Regions from separate parts of the Homo sapiens genome. Here regions 1 and 3 are each linked to region 2. Evidence: fine-mapped expression QTL. A gene starts in region 2. Each other region holds a variant in brackets. All regions are shown on one strand. Distances are from middle to middle.

Region 1 (6,742 bases), 28 kb before region 2:
CCAGAGATTTTAGTATGTTGTGTTTCCATTCTCATTTGTTTCAAGAAAATTTTAAATTTTCTTCTTAATTTTGTCATTGACCCATTGGCGATTCAGGAACATATTGTTTAATTTTCATGTGTTTGTGTAGTTTCTGAGGTTCCTCTTGTTGATTTCTAGTTTTATTCCATTGTGGTCAGGAAAAGATAGTTGTTGTGATTTCTACTTTTCTGAATATGTTAAGACTTTTTTGTGGACTAAGATTTGGTCTATTCTGGAAAATGTTCCATGTGCTTATGAAAAGAATGTGTATTCTGCAGCAGTTGGGTGAAATGTCCTCTAAATGTTAGTTAGAACTATTTGATCTAGTGTGTGGTTTAACTCTGATGTTTCTTTGTTGATTTTCTGTCTGGATGATCTGTCCATTACTGAGAATGATGTGCTGAAGTCCCATACTATGATTGTATTGCAGTCTATCCCTGCCTTTAAATCTATTAATGTTTACTTTATATATTTGGTAGCACCAGTGTTTGGTACGTGGATATTTATAAGTCTTATATTCTTTTGCTAAATTAATCCCTTTATCATTATCTACTGACCTTCTTAGTCTGTTTTGACAGTCTCTGATTTGTAGTCTATTTTATCTGATACATGTACAGCTACTCCTGCTCTTTTTTGGTTTTCAGTTGCCTGGAATATCTTTTTCCACTCCTTCACTTTAAGTCTGTGTGTGTCTTTATAGGTGAAGTGGGTTTCCTATAGGCAGCATATAATTGGGTCTTATTTATTTATTCATTGGGCCACTGTGTTTCTCTTAACTGAAGAATTGAGTCCATTTACATTGTGTTATTACTGATAGGTGAGGACTTAGTACTGCCATTTTGTTGCTTGTTTTCTGGGTGATTTGTAACTCCTTTCTTCTCTGCTTTTTTGTTAAGTGCTTTTCTCTGGTAGCATGTTTTAATTTACTGCTTTTTACATTTAGTGAATAAATATAGGTTTACATTGTGGTTACCATGAGGGTTACAAAAAACATCATATAGGTATGACTATTTTAAATAGTTGACAACTTATCTTAGAGCTCAATGAAAAAAATAGAAACAAACAAAAAGTGGAAAAATCTCTAAACTTTAACTCCATCCCCTCTACCCCAATTTTGGCTTTCTGTTGTCTCAATGTGCATATTTTATATGTCATATATCTTGACAGGTTGTTGTAGTCATCATTGTTTTAAATAGATTTGTCTTTTGGGCTTCATACTAGAGTTATGAATGAATTGCACCTGACAATTACAGTATTAGAGTATTCTGGGTTTTTCTGTACTTAGTTTTACCAGTGAGTTTTATACCTTCATTTTTTTTTATTTTTGTATGTTAGTTTTCTTTTTCTTTCAGATTGAAGAACACCCTTTAGCATTTCTTGTAAGATGAGTCTGGTGGTGGTGAATTCTCCCACCTTTTGTTTGTCTGGTAAAAACTTTATCTCTCCTTCATATTTAAAGGATAACTTAGCTGAATACAGTATTCTTGAATGGCAGAGTTTTTTTTTTTTTTTGCTTTCAACACTTTGAAAATGTCATCTCCCTCCCCACTGGCCTGTATGGTTTCCATTGAGAAGTTGATTGCCACACCAATTAGAGCTCTGTTATATGTTATTTGCTTCTTTTCTCTTGCTGCTTTCTGGATCCTCACTTTGTTCTTGACAAAGAGGTTGATTATTATATGCCTTGAGGTAGTTTTATTTGGGTTGCATCTGTTTAATGTTCTCTGGCTTTCCTGTACCTGGATATTTATCTTTTTCTCAAGATTTGAAAAGTTTTCCGTTATTCTTTCTTTGAATAAGCTTTCTACCCCTTGCTCTTGCTCAAGTCTATCTTGAATGCTGATTGTTCTTAGATTTAGTATTTTGAGGTAATTTTCTTTTTCTATCATCTTTTTCTTTTCTTTTTTACAGGGTCTTGCTCTAACACCTAGGCTGGATTGCAGTGGTTCAATTATCACTCACTGCAGCCTTGACTTCCTAGGCTCAAGCGAGTTGATGTCATTTTTTATATCTTACAGGCAATCTTTGTTTCTTTTCATTCTTTTTTTTTTCTCTTTTCACTATATATTTTCAAATAGCTTATCTTCTAGCTCACTGATTCTTTCCTCTGATTCATTGCACTGTTGAGAGCCTCCAGTGAATTTTTCAACTCAGCAAATGTATTTCTCAGTTTCAAGATTTCTGTTTGATTTTCATCCTATTACTTCAATCTCTTCGTTAAATTTCTTTAATTACTGAATTGCTTTTTTCAGGGGAAAGTCATAGCCCCCTGCTTGCTGTTGTTTCTTGTGTATGTACATCTATGTATTTGCATTGAAAAGTTGGTTATTTATTCCAGTCTTCTTTGTCTGGCTTGCTTTGGTTTTTATTGGATATGTTTCCTTAGGCAGTCTTTATAATTTATTAGATTATTTTCTTTTTGTCCCCCAGGTTGCTGCCTCCTTTTCAACACTAAATGACACCTTCTGCCCAGGTTTGCCTCAATTCTAGTAAGCAATCACCACCCATCCCATATGGGAGAGATCCCAAATGGGATATCCTGGTAGTGTGGGATGGCTTTCTAGGGGTTCATGCTCAGGGTACCTGTGGAACAAACCTCCTACAGCATAGGGCTGCTGAACAGCCACTCTAATTTGCCACCTCCTTTGGCTGAATTAAAAAGCAGAGTTTCCAGGGCTGGGGATGGTAATCCTGCCTCTCTCCTTTGTCTCTGGCTATCCTCAGGACATTTCTTCTTTTAGGCACTCTCAATGCTTCTCATGGGTTGAGACAGGGACATGTCTACTTCCAGGGATCCCCAGATGGTGGAGAATTTGGTTATTCAACTCAATCTTACTTTTTTCAGTTTAGAAACTGTGAGATGGGGGAAATTTTCCATGTACTTGGTTCTGGGCAGATTGGGAAGAGAAGTATCTCAGATATGAAAGGCTAATTCTTTACTTTCTTCTCAGAGTTTTTCAGTTCTCTGTGGCCCCTGAGAACTGTCTCCTTTTCATATTTGTGTTCTTGTATATTGCTGGTGATAATCTTGGTACTGTATATTTGATTTTGGTTTTCTTTTGGGGTAGTAAAGCCAGCTTGCTTCTACACCATCATTTTGGAACTG[G/A]AAGTTTTACAGACTTCCCTCTTTCATCATCAAAGTTCAAAAGGAAAGCAACAAGCACGGCAATATGAGGAAACAGGCCAGAGAACTGAGCTGTAGGTTTGAGGAACTTCTCAGTGGGAAGCTGGTTTTAATTGTGATCTAAATTAAGGAAGACCAAAGGTAGGGCTGGCAACTAGCTATGGAGGTTAATTGGAGTCAGGAAAAGTAAGTTTTAAGGCAGGTATTAGGTCACCATCTGAGGCCTAGGCTCTAAGGCAATAAGTGAGAGATGACTATAATCCAGTACCATAGACAGCTTCATGGACATATAGGGTCTAGGGAGAATGTTATGTCTCACAACAAAGTGACAATTAAAGAAGGACTAGAAAGAAATGGGAAAAGAAAATTATGTCTTGGCTATCTATGTCCTATGCCGAGAAAATGACAACTGCAAAATTAGGTGGGTACTTGGTGAGAGGGAAATAGCAAGGAGGCCAGTAAGGCTGGAACACAGTGAACAAAGTGAGAATAGGAGTAGTTAAATTCAGCGAAGTAACAGGAGGAAGACTATGTAGGGCACTGAAGGTCAGAGAATAGGCTTTGGATTTTACTGAATATAGAAAAAAAATGACATACTCTGACCTATTTTAAAAAATTCACACTGATTGCTAGGTGGAAAAGAGAGACTAGGAGTCTAGAGCACAAGTGGGGAAACCAGTTGAAGGCTTTTACAGTAATTCAGGCAAGATGTATTGTATCTTGAACCAAAGTAGTAGCAATGGAGATATTGAAAAATGGTCAAATTTAAGATACATTTTGAGGTATAACCAACAATATTTGCTGATAGTTTGAATGTGAGATAAAGAAAGGAGGCAAATACAACTTTAGAGTTTTGCTTAAACAACTGCAGAGATGGAATTTTAATTAACTGTATACAGTTATGTGCCATACAACAATGTTTTAGTCAATGATTGACCGCTTATACAATGGTGGTCTCAGAAGATTATATTTACACATGTGTAGATGCAGAAATACTTACCATTGTGTTATAACTGCCTGCAGCACTCACGCTGTTCAGGTTTGTAACTTAGGAGAAATAGGCCATACCATATAGCCCAGATTTATAGTAGGCTGTAACATCTAGGTTTGTATAAGTACACTTTTAGTTTGCACAATTAGGAAATTACCTAAGGACATGGTTCTCAGAACATATCCCCATTGTCAAATGATGCATAACAGAAATTACATACGGACAAGATTACAGAAAGAGCTGATTCTAGTGTTTATTGATAGAGGAATCAGGTGTCTGGTTTAAGACATGTAATGTTTGAAATGTCTATTAGACATTCAAATGGAGACATCAGGTAGATAATTGGACATACAAGAGTGAAATCTAGGCTGGAGTTATGAATCTTGAAATCTATAGCATTTAAAGCAAATTGGATTGAGATCACTTATGGAATGAGTTTACATAGAAAAGAGTGGTATTCTAACAATTGAGCTTTGAGATATTCCAAAGCTTAGAGATTGGAAAAATGAGAGATAACCCACAAAAGAAGGGAAAAGAATGAAAAGTGAGATAGGGGAGAATTTGTTGTCCTAAAGTCCAAGCACAAAAAGTAGTTCAAAAGTGAGAGACTAATTAACTGTGCCTAATTCTGTTGGAAGGGGTCAAGAAATTTGAGAACTGAAAGTAAACTGTTGAAATGAGCAACAAAGAGATCACAAAAGGTCTTGACAAGAGTAGTTTTGGTTAAATGGGGAAGAAAGATTTATGAAGTGGGTTCAAGAGAGAATGAGAAGAGAGGAAATAAAGATGAGTTTAGATAATTATTCCTTGAGTTTTGCTACAAGTAGAGTAGAATATAAACAGAAGATGATATAGGAACAGGGCAGGGTTTTGTAGGTGAGAGATATTACAGTATATGTGCATGTTGATTTAAATTATCCAGTAGAGAATGAAAATTTGATGATATGGAAGGGCAGCAGTGCTGGAATAATTAGATGTGGGAATGTTTTGGCAGTAGCCAGCAACGTTATTGAGGAAGGGAGCTAATGTAATCAGTTACATCGGACTCTTGTCTGTCTCTGAATTCACCCTCATATTAATCAGAATCACTTTATTCCTAGAGTATTAAACTCAAAATTTCTGACACCATCCTAGTATTTCATCTTCAATTTTTAAACTACTATACACACTTTCTCTCCTTGCTACAGCTGTTGTTGTCCCTGTTAATATTGTTAGAAATAAATTTTAACTCATTTTAAGTACCAACATAAATCTTTCTTTTCTCCTTGAAAGATGCCCTCCCCCTCCAGCATCTTTTCCTTTACGATGTCACCAACATGATAAAATGTAAAGAAAAGAGAAATATGTTCGGAGCGCCTTTGGTGACAGCATATTTAAAATCTATTCTTTCTGTTTTGTTGCAAGTAGAATTGAAAAGGGTATTGATTGCTCACAGAATCCCTAGGAAAGAAAATTGAGAAAGAATGCCCAAAATCATGTTGCATAACCAATTTGTGGAAGATACCACTCTGCAACCAATCCACCTAGCACTTTTGTTGGACTATGTCCCAGGGCCACTGCTGCTCCCAGCAGTGCTATCTTCCCCAAGTCCCTACTTGGGGAAGGAAATTCTTAACATGATCATGGCTGAGGGTTATGTATCTTTCTAGTGAAGTTCACATCAGCAGCAAAGGAGGCCAAGAAAGCAAGTGTCTAGTATTTTCAACTACTTTACTGGGAAGAAGGCCCACTTCTAAGTGTTTTAACTGACCAAGTTTCTGATTCCTATCACCACAGAGTTCCATCAGTCTAATTTTTGTAAATCTCATTGACATCTATCCTAGAAAGTATAAATGATGTATATATATCTTGTTGTTGTTAAGTCCTTGGTAAAATTTAGAATGTCTTAAAGTTTTCCATATTATCTTCCTATTAGGAAGGGAATATTTCCTTTAGAAGGGGAATACTTTCCAAACATGCTATATCTATAGAATACATTTTTGATCACCTACCATGTATCAGGTAGATACTAGTGATAAAATGCCAACACACTTTTCCTATTATCAAAAAGAGAGTTTATTGAGATATACAAGAATAAACATAATACTGTAAAACAAAGTGTGCTTAGGTGGTAGATGAAGAAGGACAGAAATTAACATTTATTGAGTGGTTACTCTGAATCTGACATGATGTCAGGCACTTATTTCATTTATTATCATAGCAATCTTCTATATTAAATATTATGAGAGAGGTTAAATGACATGAATTTAATCCATACAGGTAGTATGTGATGGAGCTGGGATGCAAATCTAAGCACTTCCTTTTCAGAAACATGTAGGTAGGAAAATTGTCTAGCTCTCTACTCATCAGTCCCCTATTCCATTCAGGTCTCACCTGCCGCTAAGTACCCATTCATTCAAGTCTAATATTTTAATAACATTTCTAGCCTTAAGAGCTCTGTAAGAACCTCTGTCTTAGTAGTTTTAGTATAAAGCTCATAAAAATAGTTAAGAATAGCTACCAGTAATAATTATCTATAACTATTTAGACTCTATGCTTCAGATTATAGCCTCCTGCTACACATACTGAAAAGTTTAAGTACTTGAACCATCTTAATTTTCCATCTC
Region 2 (6,742 bases):
GTTTTTTTTTTTTTTTAAAAAAAAGGTATTTTTGAGCACCTGTTGTGGCAAAAACCCTGTGCTAGTGATACAGTGGGGGGACTGAATGACAGTCCCTGCCAGGAAGGGTCTGACAGTCTAATTACAGTCCAGTGTAATAAGTGTTTGCAAAGTTGAAAGTCAATGAAAATCATTAGAGGTACACAGAAGAGTCAAAATCTGTTATTTTCTTTATTAATGACTCTATAACCTTTTATACAATTATTGTGTATTATACATCTTATTTAATGTACCTTCCTACTGCAATTCTTTTAGCAGAGTGTCAGGGAAACATGTATGTTCATGGAGGGTCAAGCATGCTGACCAATGTACTTGCAAGTAATGCAAAAGAGACATTTCTTCATTGTATGGATATCACTTGTTTTCTTATTTATTTGCACATTTATTTTTATTTTTAGGAAAAAGATTCTTTCAGCACATGATGAAACAAAGAAAATATCTTCTGTTGTTAGCTTTGCTTTTATGAATAGTTTGTTTTTTAACTGCAAATTCATCTTGCACTAATGGATGGTCTGGTAAACAGATTATCTGCTCATCAGTAGACTGTCTGGCTCTATATGGTTTAGTTATCATAGTTTGGAAAGGCAGCAACTTGCTGTTACTTTTTTCCCCTAGCCTCCAAATCTGCAGTGAAGAGTGGCTTCAACACAGCACCTGCTAAAATTTTCACAGGAATCTGCTATTTACTGATGGACTCTGCACTTTGGGGAGCTATAGAGATAACATTATCTCTTCGCTGTTTCTTATCTTATAACTTTGTAGCAGAGGAAATCAATGAATGTTAGTATCTGTTAATATCTGCCTTTGTTAATGTAAGCATTAGAAACTTGTACTTTCTGGGTGAAACTACTGAAGTCTTGGATTTTTTTAAATTCCAAGTTGCCAAAGAGGAAAGAGGGAGAATACTTAGTCATTTTATATCCACAGCCCTCTACCCTGCTCCTTGCTTGTAAATCCCCACTTGGCCTTTTAAGAGTTGAAATAGAGTCCAATCTCTCTCTCCTCCTGCAAGACCTGGTTGCAGTGGTTCTGATCACCATGGACCCCCTTGAATAAAGCCTGCCTTATTATCTTCAACAACTTTAATGACTAACTTTTTATTCACTAACTCTCCCTCTTAACTTTCTCTACCATGTTCATCAGACATGCAGTTAGTAAGGCATGTATAATGAAATGTAAATACATTTGGCACTAACATCCAGTGTTATTATGTTTATAGGTCTACATTTCTACACTTTTTAGAATTTATCTCTATTTTGTAGCTATTCCTGAAATGATGTTGAAGTAGAACAACAACAACAAAGTCTTTGATCTGACTATTTTTTTTTTTTCAGACAGAGTTTTGCTCTTGTTGCCCAGGCTGGAGTGCAGTGGCGCGAATTCGGGTCACTGCAACCTCCCTCCTTCTCCCAGGTTCAAGCGATTCTCCTGCCTCACCCTCCAAAGTGGCTGGGATTACAAGCATATGCCACCATGCCCGACTAATCTTGTATTTTTATTAGAGACGGGGTTTTGCCATGTTGGCCAGGATGGTTTCGAACCCCTGACCTCAGATGATCCACCCGCCTCGGCCTCCCAAAGTGCTGAGATTACAGGCGTGAGCCACTGCGCCCGGCTAATCTGACTACTTTTTAAGGAGGTTCAAACTTCAGAAATAACTGTAAATATTTGTTCAAATAAGAGAAATATTTAGTCTAAAATATAAATCAAAGAAAGGGTACGTACAGATTAAGCAGTGTTTGCTGTAAAAAATGTACACATTTATTGTCTAATAATACATCAGTATTAAAACTCAGTTATGTTTCCTTTATTGTACTCCACAATTATAACCATTTACAATTATTGGTAGTTTAAATAACTGAGATAAATACTGTAATTATGTAGACTTCATTACTTGAATATTTAAGAAACAATTTTCTTCCCAGATGTAAATTTTTATATTACCTTTATTGTTTTAATTTTACTTTTTCTGTTTCATTCTTAGATTCAGGGAAAAATATTAAATTATTTCATTATCACCTTGGAGCCACATTGCTAAATAGTTCAGATATTACAAATCTTTAGCCAAGACCAAATTGTGTTTTTTTTTTCAATTTATAGCCCAATTATTAATATTTAGAGACCATGTTTCTTTTATGCAGTTCTTGGTATCATCTTTTTCTATAGCACTACATTTTACACAGTTATTTCTTGCCTTTTACGGCTGGGAATCAAAACACATACGAACTTCAATTTTGTTGTAATAAACGTTAAAATTTGTGAACATTTTTAGTACTTCAGTAAAAAGCTCACTCATTGGCAGAAGCGTTCCCCAGATCAGGAAAAAAGGAATTAGGATTATCTATGACCACAAAGTAACATTAATTAATAGCAGTCTTTGGGAGCAAGCAGCAGCGCCTTTAAATCTTAGATTCTCTTGTGTCTGCAAATTATCTTTTATCTTTCAGCTGTGAAATTTTGTCTATGAAGTAATACCACGAGCAAATTAGCAATAGGATTGCAAGGTTTTTATAGTCCCGTGCTGTAGAACAATTGGCAGTAATTTGAAAAAGACCGTCCATAACGCTGTTTTTGGTCTGCGGCTAAATTTGCAATTGCATAGTTTCATTAAGGAGAACTGGAAAGAGGGCCCAGAAGTTGTTCTAGCAATCGGCAGCAGTTTATCTATTTTAAATCGTAATGCATACTTTTTTTTTCCTCCTACTGAAAACAATGGCAGATATGCTAAAGGGAAGGACACATTCTTGAACTGCTAAATGGTTTTTCCAGATAGCCATTTACGGAGTGCACTCAATTGCCACTATCTGGCTGAAAGCAAAAGCACACACGACGGCCCCTTTTCTTTTTTCCCTTTGCAAAGCGAAACAGTCTAGACGTGTTCACGTGATGTGAATGACGTCAGCCCCCGCCGGGTCGCGTGACCGACACCCAGCCTTCCTACTACCTCCCCCTGACCGCCAGAGTGGGAAATATCGCGAGAATTCGCCTTACTATCAGAACTTACTGAGGTTGCAGGGGAGTTACTCAGAAGGGAAGGGAAGGTGTGGTTGTGCGGCGGAGTTTTTGCTTTCATTCTTTTAACGTTCACAGCCAAAGCAAAGGCCTTTGGGGATTGCCAGAGTCTCAGCCACCATCCTGGAAAACAGCGGGGGAGGTGGGCCTGGAGGTGGCAAGTGTAATGTGGCTCAGGGGCCGTCATTGCCCCTTGCAGAAGGGGCTGCGGGGGAGGGAGAAAACCTGCGCCCGGTTCTGGGGAGCTGGCGACGCAGTGAACCCTGCTGAGGCTGGGTTTTGCCCCGACAGTCGCTGGTGGCTGTGGGAAGGGTTGGGACCCTTCTCTGAGAGCAGTGAACAGCCCACATCCGGCCCCTGCTGTGTCAACTCTGAGCGGCGTGGAGATGAAGTGGTTGCTCTCCCTTGCTCGGCCCACCGGGTGTCGTGGCCCGGGAACCGGCCTGGAGAAGTCCCTGCTGCCCGGCGCCCAAAACAGGGGCGTGGGCTTCCGCGACCCAGGGCGGCTGCCCCGGGCCATCCTCGAGTTGCCCTGCATCTTCCCGCTCAGTCAGCCCCAGATTGAGGCAGCCTTCTCTGTGCGGGTTTAAATGGGTAACTGTGACTTCTCGCCTCATTCACCCAAACCTCCAGTCTTCTCCCCCGCACATCCTCCTCCACCCACCTGGTTTCTCCCTAGACTGGTGTGCTCGTGTGTGCAACCAAAGGAGGGAGTGCGAGAGATCCACGAAGGGACAGGCTTGGAGTCGCTAGAGGGAGGTGTGGGACCAGCGAGGAGGGGGCTTCGCCAGGGAGGGGGTGCTGGCAGGCGGAGGGAGCGGCGGGAGGAGGCGCCGGAGGAGGAGACGGAGGCCTGGGGACGGCAGAAGAGGCTTCGCCTGAGCCGAGCGCTCTTTCTCTCGCCGCGCCGTCTTGAAGCCGCGCGGGCTCGTGAGCAGCGCGAGGCCGCCAAGGTGCCTCGCTTCGCCGGAGCCGCTGCCGCCCGCCGGAGGGAAGCCGGCCTCGGGCGCGCACGCTCGTCGGAGCCCCGGCGCGCCCCGCGCCTGAGCCTGCTGACAGCGGCCGCTGGGCTCAGGCTGTCCGCTCTGGGCTCCGCGGCCTCGGCCCCGCTGCACTCCACCTCCGCCCCCTCGGACTCCCTCCCCTCTGCTTCTACTCCTCCTGCTCCAGTGCGGATCGTTTCGCAACTGCTTGCCACTCGTCCCGTGCCTGGCTGTTTTTCCATTTCCCGGCCCCCTCTTCTTGAGTACTTTACCCCCTGCATTTGGGGACAGGGACTGGAAAAGGGGCGGGTGGAGCGTCCAGTGGAGAAGAAGGAAGCGAGGCCCGCAGGAGGAGGAGGATCGGCGGACTGTGGGGAGGAGACCCCACGCCACCCTTTCTGGTCATCTCCCCTCCCGCCCCGCCCCTGCGCACACTCCCTCGCGGGCGAGCTACTTTCGGACCAGGAAAGTAAGAGCGGCCCTGGGTGACAGCGCCGCGGGGCCAGTCCCGGGGTTAGCCGCGCGTCTGCTCGCTTCTGGTCCGTCGCGCTCCCAGCCAGGGCACAGCCCGGACCGAGGATGGCTTCGACCACAACCTGCACCAGGTTCACGGACGAGTATCAGCTTTTCGAGGAGCTTGGAAAGTAAGCACCTTTGCCCGGCATCCGCATATCCCCTTTCCAGCTGAGGGCGGGTCGCGTTGCCCCCGACCCACCGGCCTCCGTCTTGGGGCGAGGGAGTTTGGGAGAGGAATGGGAGGAGGGCCCCTGGTTTGTCAGCTCTGGGGAAGGTGCTGTCTTAATAAAGGGAGGGAGCACAGAAGGGGTAGGACCCTTACTCCAACTGTGGCTCATTTTGATGGTCCCTAGCCCACCTTCTCCCGGTCCCCCACCCTCCTGCACTGAGAGACTTAGTGAATTTACGATCTCTGCAGTTGTAGCTATCATCCTGAGAAGTGTGCGCGCGCGCCTGTGTGTAATGTGTGTTTGGAGAGGAAATTAGAACCCATGTAAAATGCAACATAGATCATGTTTTCTGTAAATAGAGATGCCTCCTGGTTAGCCGGCGTGTCGGCCGTATGACCCAGGTACTGATGAGAACTCACAGCCTCAGACGGTGCCATATTTATTGATGCCGAAAGTTCAACTTGGCATAGAGTCTATTTCGCATCCAGTAGTTGTTCTGTCCAGGAAAAGGGCCACCCAACAGAACCCAACCCCTTGCCCTATATCCAGTGTTGTTCTTTGCACCAGATTACCGCTCACCATCATTCTTCCTAGGATTTACGTGTGCATCTTTGCGTTCTCTGGGAGGATTTATTTATACAGGCAACGGAAAAGCCCTCTGGAGACTGAGAGCGCTCTTAAGCGTAGCCTAGCATTGTGTAAAACCACCTCCTTCACCCGACTGGCAGAACTACTTGGAGATGTTAGGGAAGGAGGCAGGAGACCTACTGAGGACTTATGCAAAGGGACCTAGGGGCCAAGCCGTGAATGCTGATTTTTGTAGCATGGAACCCAAACCCAATTCCTCTTTCACTAGTTTCGACTGTTACTTTTATGAAAGGAGTGCGTTTATATGTATGTTGTTGGTTTATACTGTAATTAAAGGAAAGGTAAATATTTTTAAAAGTAATAAAAATTACATATGTATATATTGTCTGGTGTTAAAACATGGAGAATATGTCGGAAGAGCAGCTTAATTCAAATCTCTCCCCTCCCCCAGTCCAAAACAAGGCATAGAGAAATCACCATACCAGGATTTGTTAAACCACACTAATGTGCTCAAGATTTATATTTTAATGAAAATAATCGTCATGTTTACTTACTTGGAACCACATTAATTTTTTGTTTCCTACCAAAATAAGTAGGCAGCAGATTTTTTTGCTGCTCCTCGTCTGCTCTGTTCTGTGCAGGGTTTTTCTCAGAGCATTTGGTGCTGTGAGTGTGAACTGTAAAATGTTTTCAAATTTCTTGTGCAAACAAGAGCGGTCATAATTGGCAGTTCCTTTCATTTTGTTGATTAATAATGTGTGCTCCCAGTTAAATAAAATTTACTTTTATTCTTCAACATTAAAGAAAGTCTGGGTTTCCAGGAAGAATTGTTCATTTACTGGATATTACTGTACTTCACTGGCAATCCACTAAAATCAATAAAAATGCTCAGATTTTATAAATTTTTAATGAAATATTATATCTGTTATATTAATGACCTGCTAATTATTGGTTTCCAGGGGGGCATTCTCAGTGGTGAGAAGATGTATGAAAATTCCTACTGGACAAGAATATGCTGCCAAAATTATCAACACCAAAAAGCTTTCTGCTAGGGGTGGGTATTTTCAACCACATATATTGGTTAATTTTGTATTTGTCATGTTGATTATAGGTTCTGTTGTATGTAAATATATCATGTAGTTATAACTGAACTTTAGACTTAGGTATCATATTATATATTAAGATTATTTTCTTCCTGAATGCTTCTTGGTCTGTACAGCTTAAAAATACATGGAAAGATATAATTATTATTTGATACATTGCTATTAAAATTCTATCTGTCCTATGAGCAATAGCATGAATAACTATATTTTAAAGCAAATAAATGTCAGGTGCATTTTGCTTATAGTTTAAGTATAAAACAACTTTTAGACCATGGAATGGAAAAATATAAGTCTCACAACTGTCATAATTCCCTTTTGCTTTTGAGAGGGA
Region 3 (6,742 bases), 36 kb before region 2:
ATGTCCAGGGTAACAAATACAAAATATATCTCTTACTTTTATGCCTTCATTTTCATACTTTTGAATTAGATGGCTCCAATGCTAGCATAAATTTTTAAAAATATATCCATCATGCTTCAGACTCTTTCTTAATTATGGCCTGTGGGCCAGTCATCAACAACATTTTTCTTTCCTAGAACATAAGAGGTCTGGATTTTGCATGTCTTTCCTAGAACAGGGAAGCCTGTCTGCCAGCCAATCAGAACCTGCCAGTGGACTCAGTAAGCAGGCCTATTATTTGAATGCTTAGCTTTTCATTACACTAGCTATAAAACAAGAAACATCAAGACAAATAAGAACTTGGATTGGCTGCTAGATTTACTACCCAGCTGCTAAAGAAACCATCAGGATTCACTATATTTCACCATGTTAGCAAGAAACATCAGTCACATTAACAGCCATCTTTAAAAGCAGAGTGAAGCATAACTTACCAGTTCTATCAACGAGCCCTTTAGCTGAACAACTGCATCTGTCTGAGTTCATTTAAAAAAAAAAATTGTCAGTAATTAAATACATCTTGCAAATTTTTTTTTAACAGTTCCAAAAGCAAGGAATTGCTTCAGTTGCCCTTAGTTTATTTCTGGCCATTGTAAACATCTGGATAAGCATAATGTACTCTTAGGAGCTATTGGTATGTTAATCCTCCAGTGGAATTTAAGCAGGGTTTTTTGTGTATTTTTATAGATATATAATATTTGCACATTTTTATGGTGTCTGTGGGTATTTTGTTACATGCATGTAATATAATATGTACTTTGATTATATCGTCACACTTAATTTTATTTTATTTTCCCACTGCCTAAGTCTATTTTGTGCTGCTGTAACAAAATAAAACAGGATGCCACTTTGGGAGGCCGAGGTGGGCGGATCACGGGGTCAGGAGATCAAGACCATCCTGGCTAATACGGTGAAACCCCGTCTCTACTAAAAATACAAAAAATTAGCTGGGCATGGTGGCAGGCGCCTGTAGTCCCAGCTACTGGGGAGGCTGAGGCAAGAGAATGGCGTGAACCTGGGAGGCGGAGCTTGCAGTGAGCCAAGACTGCGCCACTGCACTCCAGCCTGGGCGACAGAGCGAGACTCTGTCTCAAAACAAAACAAAACAAAAACAGAATGGGAGATTTATAATGAATAAAAATGTATTGGCTAACAGTTCTGGAGGCTGGAAAGTCCAATATTAAGGTGCTGGCATCTCGTGAGGGCCTTCTTGCTGTATTATCAAATGGCATAAAGTGAAAGGGCAAAGAGAGGGCAAGAAAGGGCCAAATCAGTCTTTTCATAATGGTATTAATCTCACCCATGAGGGTAGAGCCCTATAGCCTAATCACCTATTAATATCTTAATGATCTTAATATCTTAGTAACCCCAACTGTTAATATAGTTACAATGGCAATTAAGTTTTATCATGAGTTTTGGAGGGGACAAACATTCAAACCATAACACCCACTGTTTTTTTTTATTTTGTTTTGTAAGATGCTAGGTTTGTGTTACCATAGCAGCTACTCTGGAGGTACAGACAATTCTTTCTTTATATTTATTAAATGACTTAAATTCTTGCATTGAGAAACTCTATACAAGCATGCCATGTTTTCATTTGCAAATATTACATGTATGTTACAAATACTAGCTTATATGTTTTAAAATCTTTACCTTGGTTAATGAGGAGAACTTTTAAAAATCCCATTTGAATTAGTGCCTTTCACAGGGAGTGACTTTTGAGTTTACCTTAAAGAATACGTAAGATTCCTCCAGCCATGAAAGGAATATAAAGGCACTGTTGCGTTGGAAAATAACCTAACCAAAGGCCTGGGAGAGCAAAAGTGCCTTGCACAGTCAGGAAGATCTATTTTACATCTAAATATATGCAAATAGAGATAAATCGGAGATAAATCTTAAAAAGTAAGACTGTATGTCATGCAATGGATTTCAAACTTAATTCGTTAGAATTTGAAGAATAGTAGATTTTTTAAACAAGGTAGTAGCATGTTTCAGACAAATCACTGTCTCCTGATAGAGAGAAAAGAGAGATAAATAATGGCAATAGAAAAGGCCATTTAAATTGTTATTCAAACAACAGTGGTGATGGTATTTTGGCCCAAAACATTTCTGAATTTATTTCATCTAATTCTCTGAAACTCTCTCCTCCTAACCAGCATTTTCCTTTTCTTTTAAGCTTGTTTTTGTTCTGACTTTCCATGTAGCTCATTATTTTCAAATTTAAAATAATTAGGACCACAAATAGACTTTTCATCTCCATGAACTTTTTTATATACCCGCCTATGCTAAGTTTATATAATCTGGAAATACTAATATAAATCATTAAGCTTTAGTTCAGTACCTTTTGACAGCTGATTAAACTTTTCTTTTCCTGAATGATAAAGTAATATTCTATTTATACCCAATTCCTGATGCTATACACTTGTATTTAGAAGAAATATGGTTATATTATTTGAATTTTGCCAAAGTAGAGTTTATTTCTTGGACACAGTATAGTTTATCTAATTTGCAAAAGGAATCCTAGGGAAAGATTAGACTCTAACTAAAGCCTATTAAGAAGTCAAACCTCGACAGCTGGCACATCTGTTCCTGTCTTCCCTTCAACTTCTACAGTCTTCCTTCTTTTAAAAAACTCTGTTTTCTTTATTTCATTGATATAGAAGAGATGTAAATATTTTGAGGGTGCATGTGATAATTTTGTATATTTATTTAATTTGTGAAGATTAGATCAGTGTAATTGATCACCTTAAGTCACCTTAAATACTTGTATTTTCTTGATGCTAGAAACATTTAAATTGTTCTCTTCTAGCTAGTTTGAAATATACAATAGATTATTGTAGAACACAGTCACCCTACTAATCTATCAAAAGCTAGATTTATGTCTTCTATTAAACTATATATTTGTATTCATTAGTCAACCTCTCCTCATCCCCTTCTCCCCTCCCCTTTCTGGCTTCTGGTAATCACCAATTTACTCTCTATCTTCATGAGATCCACTTTTTTAGCTCCCATATATAAATGAAAACATGCAATATATTTGTCTTTCTGTGCTTCACTTACTTAACATAATTATCTCCAGTTTCATTCATGTTGCTGCAAATGACAGGATTTCTTTCCTTTTTAATAGCTGAGTAATATTCCATTGTGTATATATGCCACATTTTTTATTCATCCATTGATGGACACTTAAAGATTGATTTCATATTTTGGCTATTGTAAATAGTGCTTCAATAAATGTGGGAGTGTAGATATCTCTTCAATATATTGATATCC[C/T]ATCTTTTGGATATATACCCAGAAGTGAAATTGCTGAATCAAATGGTAGTTCTATTTTTTGTTTTTCTGAGGAAACTTTACAGTGTTTTTCATAGTGGCTGTACTAATTTACATTCCCAAAAACAGTGTACATGTGTTCCTTTTTCTCTGCATCCTAGCCAGCATTCATTATTCCCTATATCTTTGATAAAAGGTATTTTAACTGTGGTGAGATGATATCTTATTTTTGGTTTTGAGTTGCATTTCTCTGATGATCAGAGATGTTGAGCACTTTTTCACATACCTCTTGGCCATTTGTATGGCTTCTCTTGAGAAATGTCTATTCAGAAGTTTTGCCTATTGTTTAATTGGATTATTTGGGTTTTTTTCCACTATTGAGTTGTTTGAGCTCCTTATATATTTTGGTTATTAATCTTTTTTCAGATGGGTAGTTTGCAAATATTTTCTTGCATTCTGTGGGTTTTTTACTGTGTTGATGTGTGTGTGATAAGATTTTTAGTTTGATGTAATCCCATCTGCCCATTTTTTGCTTTGGTTGCCTGTGCTTTTGAGGTCTTACACAAAAAACTTTGCCTAGTACAATATCCTGGAGGATTTCCATGATTTCTTCTAGTAGTTTCATAGTTTGATAGGTCTTAGATTTAAGTCTTCAATGCATATTGATTTGATTTTTTGTATGTGGTGAGACATAGGGGTCTAGTTTCATTCTTCTGCATATGATTATCCAGTTTTCCAGCATCATTTATTAAAGAGACTGTCCTTTCCCTATTGTATGTTCTTGGCATCTTTGTAAAAAATGAGTCGGCTGTAAATACATAAATGTATATCTGGGTTCTCCATTATGTTCCATTGGTCTACGTTTCTGTTTTTATGACTGTAAACCATGTTGTTTTGATTACTATAGCTTTGTAGTATATATATATTTTTAATTTTTTTAGTATTTATTGATCATTCTTGGGTGTTTCTCGGAGAGGGGGATTTGGCAGGGTCATAGGACAATAGTGGAGAGAAGGTCCGCAGATAAACATGTGAACAAAGGTCTCTGGTTTTCCTAGGCAGAGGACCCTGCGGCCTTCCGCAGTGTTTGTGTCCCTGGGTACTTGAGATTAGGGAGTGGTGATGACTCTTAACGAGCATGCTGCCTTCAAGCATCTGTTTAACAAAGCACATCTTGCACCGCCCTTAATCCATTTAACCCTGAGTGGACACAGCACATGTTTCAGAGAGCACAGGGTTGGGGGTAAGGTCACAGATCAACAGGATCCCAAGGCAGAAGAATTTTTCTTAGTACAGAACAAAATGGAGTCTCCTATGTCTACTTCTTTCTACACAGACACAGTAACAATTTGATCTCTCTTTCTTTTCCCCACGTTTCCCCCTTTTCTATTCGACAAAACCGCCATCGTCATCATGGCCTGTTCTCAATGAGCTGTTGGGTACACCTCCCAGACGGGGTGGTGCTGGGCAGAGGGGCCCCTCACTTCCCAGATGTGGTGGCCGGGCAGAGGCGCTCCTCAGTTCCCAGATGGGGTCGCCGCCGGGCAGAGGCGCTCCTCACCTCCCAGACGGGGTGGCGGCCGGGTAGAGACGCTCCTCACCTCCCAGACGGGGGTGGCCGGGCAGAGGCGCCCCTCACATCCCAGACGGGGCGGCCAGGCAGAGGCGCTCCCCACATCCCAGATGATGGGCGGCCAGGCAAAGAGGCTCCTCACTTCCTAGACGGGATGACGGCCAGGAAGAGGCGCTCCTCACTTCCCAGACTGGGCTGCCGGGCAGAGGGGCTCCTCACATCCCAGATGATGGGCAGCCAGGCAGAGACGCTCCTCACTTCCCAGATGGGGTGGCGGCTGGGCAGAGGCTGCAATCTCAGCACTTTGGGAGGCCAAGGCAGGTGGCTGGGAGGTGGAGGTTGTAGCCAGCCGAGATCACGCCACTGCACTCCAGCCTGGGCAACATTGAGCACTGAGTGAGCGAGACTCCGTCTGCAATCCCGGGACATCGGGAGGCCGAGGCGGGCAGATCACTCAAGGTCAGGAGCTGGAGACCAGCCCGGCCAACACGGCGAAACCCCGTGTCCACCAAAAAATACAAAAACCAGTCCGGCGTGGCAGCGCGCGCCTGCAATCCCAGGCACTCGGCAGGCTGAGGCAGGAGAATCAGGCAGGCAGGTTGCAGTGAGCTGAGATGGCAGCAGTACAGTCCAGCCTCGGCAACAGAGGGAGACCATGGAAAGCGGGAGACGGAGACGAGGGAGAGGGGGAGAGAGTGGAAAGCGGGAGACGGAGACGAGGGAGAGTGAGAGGGAGAGGGAGCGGGAGAGGGAGCGGGAGAGGGAGAGGGAGAGCGCTTTGTAGTATATTTTTAAGTCAGGTAGTGTGATGCCTCTAGTTTTGTCATTTATTGCTAAGGAATGCTTTGGCTACTTGGCATCTTTTGTGATTCCATAAAAATGTAAGACTGTTTTTCTATTTCTGTGAAAAATGTCAGTGGTATTTTAATAGGAATTGCACTGAATCTGCAAATTGCTTTGAATTATATTGCCAACTTAACAATATTAATTCTTCCAATCCATGAGCATGGAATATCTTTCCTTTTTTTGTATCCTCTTCAACTTAACTCATCAGTATTTTATATATTTCTTGTGTAGGTGTTTCACTTCTTGGTTAAATTGATTCCTAAGTATTTTGTAGCTATTGTAAATGGAATTATTTATTGGTTTTCACTGTTTCTTGGTGGAATCTTTAGGCTTTTTAAAGTACAATTTTATGTTATCTACGAACAAGGCTAATTGGACTTTTTTTTTTTCCATTTTGGACGCCCTTCATTTTATTTGCCTAATTGCTCTGGTCAGGATTTTCAGTATTATGTTGAATAAAGGTGATGAAAGTGGGCATACTTGTCTTGTTATAGATCTTAGAGGAAAGGCTTTCAATTGTTCCGCATTCAGTCTGATGTTAGCTGTGGATTTGCCATGTTTGGACTTTATTAATTTAAGGTATGTTTCCTTTCTATCCAGATTGTATGGGGTTTTTTCCTAAAGAAATGTCCAATTTTACAAAATGCTTTTGCAGCATCTATTAACATCATTATATGATTCTTTTTTTTTTTTTTTTTTTTTCCTGAGACAGAGTCTCACTCTGTTGCCCAGGCTGGAGTGCAGTTGTGCAATCTCAGTTCACTGCAACCTCCACCTCCCGGGTTTAAACAATTCTCCTGCCTCAGCCTCCTGAGTAGCTGGGACTACAGGCGCCCGCCACCACGCCTGGCTAATTTTTGTATTTTTAGTAGAGATGGGGTTTCACCTTATTGGGCAGGCTGATCTCGAACTCCTGACCTTGTGATCCGCCCACCTCGGCCTCCCAAAGTGCTGGGATTACAGGCTGAGCCACTGCGCCCAGCCCAATTATTTGTTCTTGATTCTGCTTCTGTGATG

What was found.
Region 1: its variant is fine-mapped to the expression of CAMK2D in whole blood (TOPMed, PIP above 0.99).
Region 3: its variant is fine-mapped to the expression of CAMK2D in whole blood (INTERVAL, PIP above 0.99). The same link has a PIP of 0.9 or more in monocytes.

The regions. Positions count from the first base shown.
Region 1 is chr4:113,787,134-113,793,875 of GRCh38, reverse strand. No RefSeq gene overlaps it. Among named protein-coding and RNA genes, the nearest start is that of CAMK2D, 29 kb to the right of the region's middle. RefSeq lists a silencer at 4,744-4,803. The variant G/A (reference allele first, on the strand shown) is at 3,128.
Region 2 is chr4:113,758,940-113,765,681 of GRCh38, reverse strand. It overlaps CAMK2D (calcium/calmodulin dependent protein kinase II delta), which reads left to right and starts at 3,944. Exons shown (of 21, transcript NM_001321571.2): 1 at 3,944-4,678; 2 at 6,268-6,362. The coding sequence starts at 4,614. RefSeq lists enhancers at 2,677-3,215, 3,216-3,754 and a silencer at 3,748-4,157.
Region 3 is chr4:113,794,740-113,801,481 of GRCh38, reverse strand. No RefSeq gene overlaps it. Among named protein-coding and RNA genes, the nearest start is that of CAMK2D, 36 kb to the right of the region's middle. The variant C/T (reference allele first, on the strand shown) is at 3,310.